2 linked regions of the Homo sapiens genome follow. The protein of the gene in region 2 purifies or fractionates together with the protein of the main gene of each other region. This does not show direct contact. Each region holds a gene or a part of one and is shown on either strand. Other genes may lie near its edges. The genes, in order: WDR20 and UGT1A9.

Region 1 (3,825 bases), on a different chromosome or scaffold from region 2:
GAGACAGAACATTTCCCATATGAGCATTCCCATAACAGAACGCTCATTCTCTCTCAAGTCAACCCATTACCTTCTTCTTTAATCAGGATCTAAAAATACTTTAGCTTTTATCAACTGACTCTTCTTCTGGCCCCAACTTCATCTCAGCATCATGAACATAAAGCTCTTCTAGCCGGGCATGGTGATTCACACCTGTAATCCCAGCACTTTGAGAGGCCGAGACGGGTGGATCACAAGGTCAGGAGTTCAAGACCAGCCTGGCCAAGATGCTGAAACCCTGTCTCTACTAAATATACAAAAATTAGCTGGGCATGGTGGCAAGTGCCTGTAATCCCAGCTACTTCGGAGGCTGAGGCAGGAGAATCGCTTAAAACCCGGGTGCCAGAGGTCACAGTGAGCCAAGATCAAGCCACTGCACTCCAGCCTGGGCGACAGAGCAAGACTTCGTCTCAAAAACAAACAAACAAACAAACAAACAAAAAAACTCTTCCAGCATAAATACCTAGAAATCACAATGTTTTCAGCTTGCTTTCCCAAACACCCCACCCCTCTCAATTCCAAATCAAGTAGGCAATGAATCAAAGAGATGAAGATACCTCCCCAATAGAATGATGAATCCATTTCCATTTAAAAAAAAAAAAAACAACTGAGTACAGAATCATATAAGCTTTAGAGATGGAAAAACCTTAGAATCCTCTAAATCTACTTCCTACCTCCTGTAGTTACCACTTCAGTAACTTCTCTGGGCAGTACATTTGTGACCTGGAATCTTAAGATGTGGGAAGGTAGGAAGGTTCTTTGGCTTGAATGTTAAGTAATTCTGAGTATAGTTTTTGTTTATTATTGATTGTTTTGTTTTTTTGAAACAGGCTCTCACTCTCTTGCCCGGGCTGGAGTGCAGTGGCACGATTACAGCTCACTGCAGCCTCAACCTCCCCAGTTCAAGTGACCCTTCTACCTCAGCCTTCCAAGTAGGTGGGACTAGAGGCACATGACACCACGCCCACCCTTGTAGAGACAGGGTTTCACTATGTTGTCCAGGCTGGTCTCGAACCCACACGAGGTTTCACTGTGTTGCCCAGGCTGGACCCCTGCAATCCTCCCGCCTTGGCCTCCCAAAAGTGTTAGGATTATAGGTATGAGCCACCACTCCTGGCCTGAGAACAGTTTTTAAAAGTTGTACATGGATCTTGTAGGTGACATGGTTTGACAGAAGTAGATCAAAAGTAATCTGTGTCATTTGTTTACTATTACTTCATTGTCTCTTACACGATTTCCCTATTTTAAGAAGGTTAAATTTTTTACCTACTAGCAATATTTTTAAATGTCTTTTAAAAGATATGAGCTATTAAAAAATACCCAAGTTACTTTTGGGCCCAAAACTGAATAGGTTTTTCATCTTCTAAAGATCTCTTTCAAGTTTGGTATAGACAGACATGGCTTTACTCAGTCATTCACTCAACAAGTACACAGCAAGGGCCTAACTCTAAACTGGACACTGCACTGTGCATTGAGAAGATGGAGAGCAGGAAAGATAATGTCCCTATTCTAAGGGAGCTTTGTTTTATAGAAGGCACAGTTGGATCATCACACAGAATTACAAATTCAGAAAAGTGCTAGGAAGGCAAAGCACAAGATGCTCTAAGAACATAGAGCCTGTAATCCCAGTGCTTTGGGAGGCTGAGGCAGGTGAATCACTTGAGGCCAGGAGTTCAAGACCAGCCTGGCCAACATGGCAAAACCCCGTCTCTATTAAAATACAAAAATGAGCTGGGCATGGTGGCACATGCCTGTAATCCCAGCTACTCGGGAGTAGCCCAAGAATCACTTGGGCCCGGGCGGCAGAGGTTGCAGTGAGCCAAGATCACATCACTGCACTCCAGCCTGGGCAACAGAGCAAGATTCTGTCTCAAAAACAAAAAAAAAAACAAAACAAAAAAACATGTAATAGGGTAAAACTGATACACCATGGGGATTCAAAGAAAAATTTCCTGAGGAAGTGATGGTTAAGCTGAGATCTGAATGGAGGCCATTCATATTTATGTAAAAACAGATGTCCATAAAATGAGAGGATTGGTCCAATAAGCCCAGCTACCTTACCTTTGGCATCTTTTATCCTACATCCTAAAACAATCTTTTTTTTTTTTTTTTGAGACAGAGTCTAGCTCTGTCGCCCAGGCTGGAGTGCGGTGGTATGATCTTGGCTCACTGCAACCTCCGACTCCAGGGTTCAAGTGATTCTCCTGCCTCGGCCTCCCGAGTAGCTGGGACTATAGGCAAGCACCACCACGCCCAGCTAATTTTGTATTTTTAGTAGAGATGGGGTTTTACCATGTTGGCCAGGCTGGTCTCAAACTCCTGACCTCAGGTCATCTACCTGCCTCGGCCTCCCAAAGCGCTGAGATTACAGGTGTGAGCCATGGCGCATAGCCCCACTCCCCTTTTTTGTTGTTTTAAAGAAAGGGTCTCATTCTGTTGCCCAGGTTGGGGTACAGTGGCACAATCATAGCTCACTGTAACCTTAACTCTTCGGCTCAAGAGCCCTCCTCGCTTCCCAAGTAGCTGTGACTACAGGCACATACCACCATGGCCAGCTAATTTTTTTTTTATTATTTTTTTGTGGACACAGGGTATTGATATATTATCCAGGCTGGTCTCAAACTCCTGGGCTCAAGCGATCCTCCCACCTCAGTCTCCCAAAGTGCTGGGATTACAGGTATGAGCCACTGCACCCGACCACAATCTCTTTTTTTAAAAAAGGAGAACAAAGTATGTAATAAAGATGTTTACGGCCGGGCGCAGTGGCTCACGCCTGTAATCCCAGCACTTTGGAAGGCCGAGGAGGGTGGATCACGAGGTCAGGAGTTCGAGACCAGCCTGGCCAATATGATGAAACCCCATCTCTACCAAAAATACAAAAATTAGCTGGGCGTGGTGGTACGCACCTGTAGTCCCAGCTGCTCGGGAGGCTGAGGGAGGAGAATCGCTTGAACCTAGGAGGCAGAGGTTGCAGTGAGCCGAGATTGTGCCACTGCACTCCACCCTGGGTGACAGAGCTAGACTTTGTCTCAAAAAAAAAAAAAAGATGTTTAAAAGCTAGTAGTTGAAAGTCTTTTGGGGAGAGGGACAGGGTCTTATTTAGCTCTGAATACCTCACATCACCTTGCCTGGTATTATTACTATCACAGTAGTCACTCAAATCTGGTAAAATGATTAGTGTCAGTATTAAATCAATGTTAATACTGTCTTTAAATAAATTTGCAAAACTACATCTCCTCACACAAGAAACCCCACTCTAAACTTCCTCGATTGTGAAAAGATGTTTTAATCTACCTCAAGAATTTAATAAAATAATATATGGCAAAATGCCGGGGTAGATTCTGAAGTGCTCGGAGTATATAATATCCCTGTGATCAAAAAGGTGGATCAGTCTCTTCTAAGCTGGTTTAGACTCAGCTGTGCTTCATTTTCCTTACTATGAGAAAAAATTCTAACAGGTTTGCATCCCCTCTCTGGCCTTGGTTCGCTCTGAGGAGGGTGAAATAACAAACTCTAAAGTTCCTTCTAGCTCCAGACACTGACCTGTAAACCTTTTAAAAGGATCAAGATTGCACTCCTCAGCATGAACGTTAGACTACTTCCTCACCTACTCCATTTCCCCAGGACCCCATGTTTCCTCTCAGGAATGGTAGCACGTAATTAATGAGTTAAGTTCTTTAAAAGACCTATTTTCTACTCATTTTACACACAGACTTAAGTTGAATTTACTCATCTAAATTAGATCTTCTGAATAATCCAAATAATTATTGTAAAATTTTACACGCC
Region 2 (3,825 bases):
ACTTCCACCTCCTCTACCTCTTCTGCCTCTGCCACCCTGAGACAGCAAAATCAACATCTACTCCTCCTCCTCCACAGCCCACTCAATGGAAGATGATGAGGATGGAGACCTTTATGATGAATGACTTCCTCTTATACATACTCAACTTTTATTTTAGATTCAGGAGTACATGTGCAGGTTACCTGAGTATATTGTGTGATGCTGATGTTTGGGGCATGATTGCTCCCATCACCCAAGTACTGAGCATAGTACCCAATAGTTTTTCAACTCTTGCAGCCTTTCCTCTCCCTTTTAGGAGTCCATAGTGTCTATTGTTGCCATCTTTATGCCCAAAAGTACCCACTATTTAGCTCCCATTTCTAAGTGAAAACAATGGTATTTGGTGTTCTGTGCCTGTATATATTCCCTTAGGGTAATGACCTCCAGCTGCATCCATGTTGTTACAAAGGACATGATTTCATTCTTTTTTTATGGCTGCATATTCCATGGAGTATGTGTTCCACATTTTCTTCATCTAAGCCACTGTTGACGGGCACCTAGGTTGATTTCATGTCTTTTCTATTCTGAATAGAGCTGCAATGAACATACCAGTGCATGTGTTTCTTGGTAAAACGATTTTTTTTACATATATCTAGTAATGGGATTGCTGGGTCGAATGACAGTTCTGTTTTAAGTTCTTTGCAAAATCTCCAAACTACTTCCCACAGGGGATGAACTAATTTGCATTCCCACCAAGAGGGTACAAGTGTTCCCTTTTCTCAGCAGCCTCACCAGCATCTATTATTTCTTGACTTTTTAATAACAGCCATTCTAACTGGTGTGAGATGATATCTTATTGTGGTTTTCATCTTCATTTTTCTGGTAACTAGTGATGTTGAGCATTTTTTCATATGTTACGTTTTTTAATAACATTTTCTTTTCTCTAGCTAGCTGCATTGTCATAATACAGGATATAATACTAATAACATACAAACTATGTGTTAATTGACTGTTTATGGTATTGGCAAGGCTTTTGGTAAACAGTTGGCTATTAGTAGTTAAGTTTTTGGAGAATCAAAAGTTCTATGCGGATTTTCTACTACACACGGGTTGGTCCCCTTCATTCCCACATTGTTCAGGGGTCAACTATACTAGCAATGAACACTTGAAAACTGGATTAAAAATACCACTTAAATAGCATCAAAAACATGATATACTTAGGGATATATCTGACAAAGGATGTGAAAGACTGTACATTGAAAACTACAGAGCACTGATGACGGACCTAAATAAAAAGATATGTTAATGAATTGGAAAACTCAAAATTGCTAAGATGTTGTTTCTCCCCAGTTGATCTATAAATAAAATACAATCCCAATCAAAATCCTAGCAGGATTTTTGCACACATTAATGAACTTATTTTAAAATGCATATGGTAATGCAAAAGACCTCCAATAGCAAAAGCAATTTGAAAAAAAAAATTAGAGGTAACACTACCTCATTTATAGATTATTACACAGCTATAGTAATCAAATATTTCACAAATAGATCAACAGAACAGAATACAAAGTCTAGAAATACGTGCACAGATGTATGAACAACCAAGTTTTTACAAAGGTACAAAGGCAATGCAGTGGAGAAAAGGTTCTGTTTTTCTACAGTTGAATATTCACACGCAAGAAAACAAGAAAAGACCTCTGTGTCTTCCTACCAAAAGTCTATAAACCCAGTTTTACCACGATGAAAACATCAGGCAAAACACACACTGACATTCTAGAGGAACATTCTACAGGACACCTGACTAGGACTGCTCGAAACTGCCCAAGTCACTAAAAACAAGGAGAGTCTGAGAAACCGTCACAGGCTGGAGGAGACAAAGGAGACATGATGACTACATTTCAGGTGGTATCACTGGGATCCCATAAAAGAACAGGGAAATTAAGTAAAAATTAATGAAATCTGAAGGAAACAGACTTTAGCTTTTAGCTCATCATTATGCGTCAATATTGGTGAATGAGTTGTGATGGATGTGCCATAGAAACATGAGATTTAACAATGGTGGAAACTGGACACAGGGTAGATGAAAATTCTCTAAACTATTTGTTGTAACCTTGCTATAATCCTATATTTATTCTACAATGAAGTATTTGTAAGAAAAGTCACTCAACAGACTGTGAGAAAATATTTGCAGGACCCCTGTGGATGCACACAGGGGTGATTCATCAGTGAATTCATCATCAACCATGCTTCTGATGAATCCATCGGTGAAGGATTCATCAGAGGCATGGTGGGAGGTGGCTGGATGATTTCCACAAATGGTTTTGGAGTCTGACGCTGGAGCTCAAGGACCCCAGGGTGGGTCTTCTGTTGAAAAGACTATTCTTTCCCATTTGAATGATCTTGACACACTTGTCAAACTTTGGCACCTAGTCAATTGGCCAAGGATGTATATGTATGGGTTTATTTCTGAATTCTCCATTCTATTCCATTGATCTGTATGGAAAGATGTTGTGTGAGACAATCCGGGGAAATTTTATTATGGACTGTAAATGAGATAATATTAAAGAATTTTTATTGTCTTAGATATGATAATGATATTGTGGCTATGTAACAAATTTTTCTTATTTTTTATATTAAATGAATTGTTCAGTGATGGAATGACATGCCAAGAATTTCTTTTTAAAAACATACAAATTTATTTTTAAAAGTTTTCTTTAAAAAGATAGAATAAAGGGATAGATGAATTAGTAGAGCAAAATAGTGAAAATTATTTAACCTAAGAATGGATAAGTGGGTGCTCATTACACTGAGTCTCTCCATTGTGTATGTTTGAAAACTTTGAAAATAAAAACTTGAAGTAAATAATTTTAGTGGGAGGCCTTAGTCTTGTCCACCAAAAGCTAACTTTGAATTTGGATCTTGGACTATAGCCAGAATCTTACAGCAAGGGGGGAAGCACAGATCTCTTATTTATCTGTAACCATATCCCACCCCCAGAGCCGCACCTGCCATGGATGGTATAGACAAAGCCTGAATTCTTTTCACCTAAAACCAGTCATTAATTCTGTTGGAACTCATCAAAAATTCAAAAAGACTAGGGACCTCCTCTTTTTGCCATTAAAACTATTTCAATGTTCTGCTGAATTATTTACACATCATTAATCAACACACACACATTAGAACGCTGGAATGTAAAAGAATGACCACACGGAATGATATAGTTTAGAAGTTTGTCCCCTCCAAATCTCACGTTGAAATTTGATCCCTGACATTGAAGACGGGGCCATCTGCCATCCTTGTTAAAGTATTTAATTACATCCCTGGATGTAATTCCCCTGGATAGCCTCAAGGAGATTTTGTTACAGGAGACCTTCAAGAAAATCCCCTATGCAGGGTCTGGGACACTGCACACAAACACACCTGCACATACACAAACACATACATGTGCAAACACATACTCCATCATCAAGTAATGCTTCCTTCTCATCAGACAGATAAGACACAGACTCTGAATCCTGTTTCCCAGCAAGATGTAACCAACTGCATGCTTTTCCCAGACACATCCTGGCATCTGAAACAAGGAAGGAGCAATATGAAGTGTCCATCCTTCTGTCAATGACAATTTACTTCTGTGGTTGGGCCATATCCAAGGCTCTTTGCCGGAAAGCCTTCTTTGAGTTCTGAATTCCTCTGTGAGAACTCCGCTGGCTTTACACGTATAGTCATAAATACATACATTAATATATGTAATCTTCCACAAGTATAAAAACTTTCATACATCCATATTCTTTAATAGACACATAAACACATTTATTTCATATCTCATAAAAGATATTTATAATCAAA

Evidence for each region.
Region 1: the proteins of UGT1A9 (region 2) and WDR20 purify together in Homo sapiens (affinity purification with mass spectrometry; one large-scale study listed by BioGRID and IntAct). This does not show direct contact.

What each region holds. Positions count from the first base shown.
Region 1 is NC_000014.9:102,142,808-102,146,632, reverse strand, and holds part of WDR20 (WD repeat-containing protein 20), read right to left. Parts: intron 1-3,825. UniProt on the Homo sapiens protein: Regulator of deubiquitinating complexes. Activates deubiquitinating activity of complexes containing USP12. Anchors at the base of the ubiquitin-contacting loop of USP12 and remotely modulates the catalytic center of the enzyme.
Region 2 is NC_000002.12:233,674,633-233,678,457, reverse strand, and holds part of UGT1A9 (UDP-glucuronosyltransferase 1A9 precursor), read right to left. Parts: intron 1-3,825.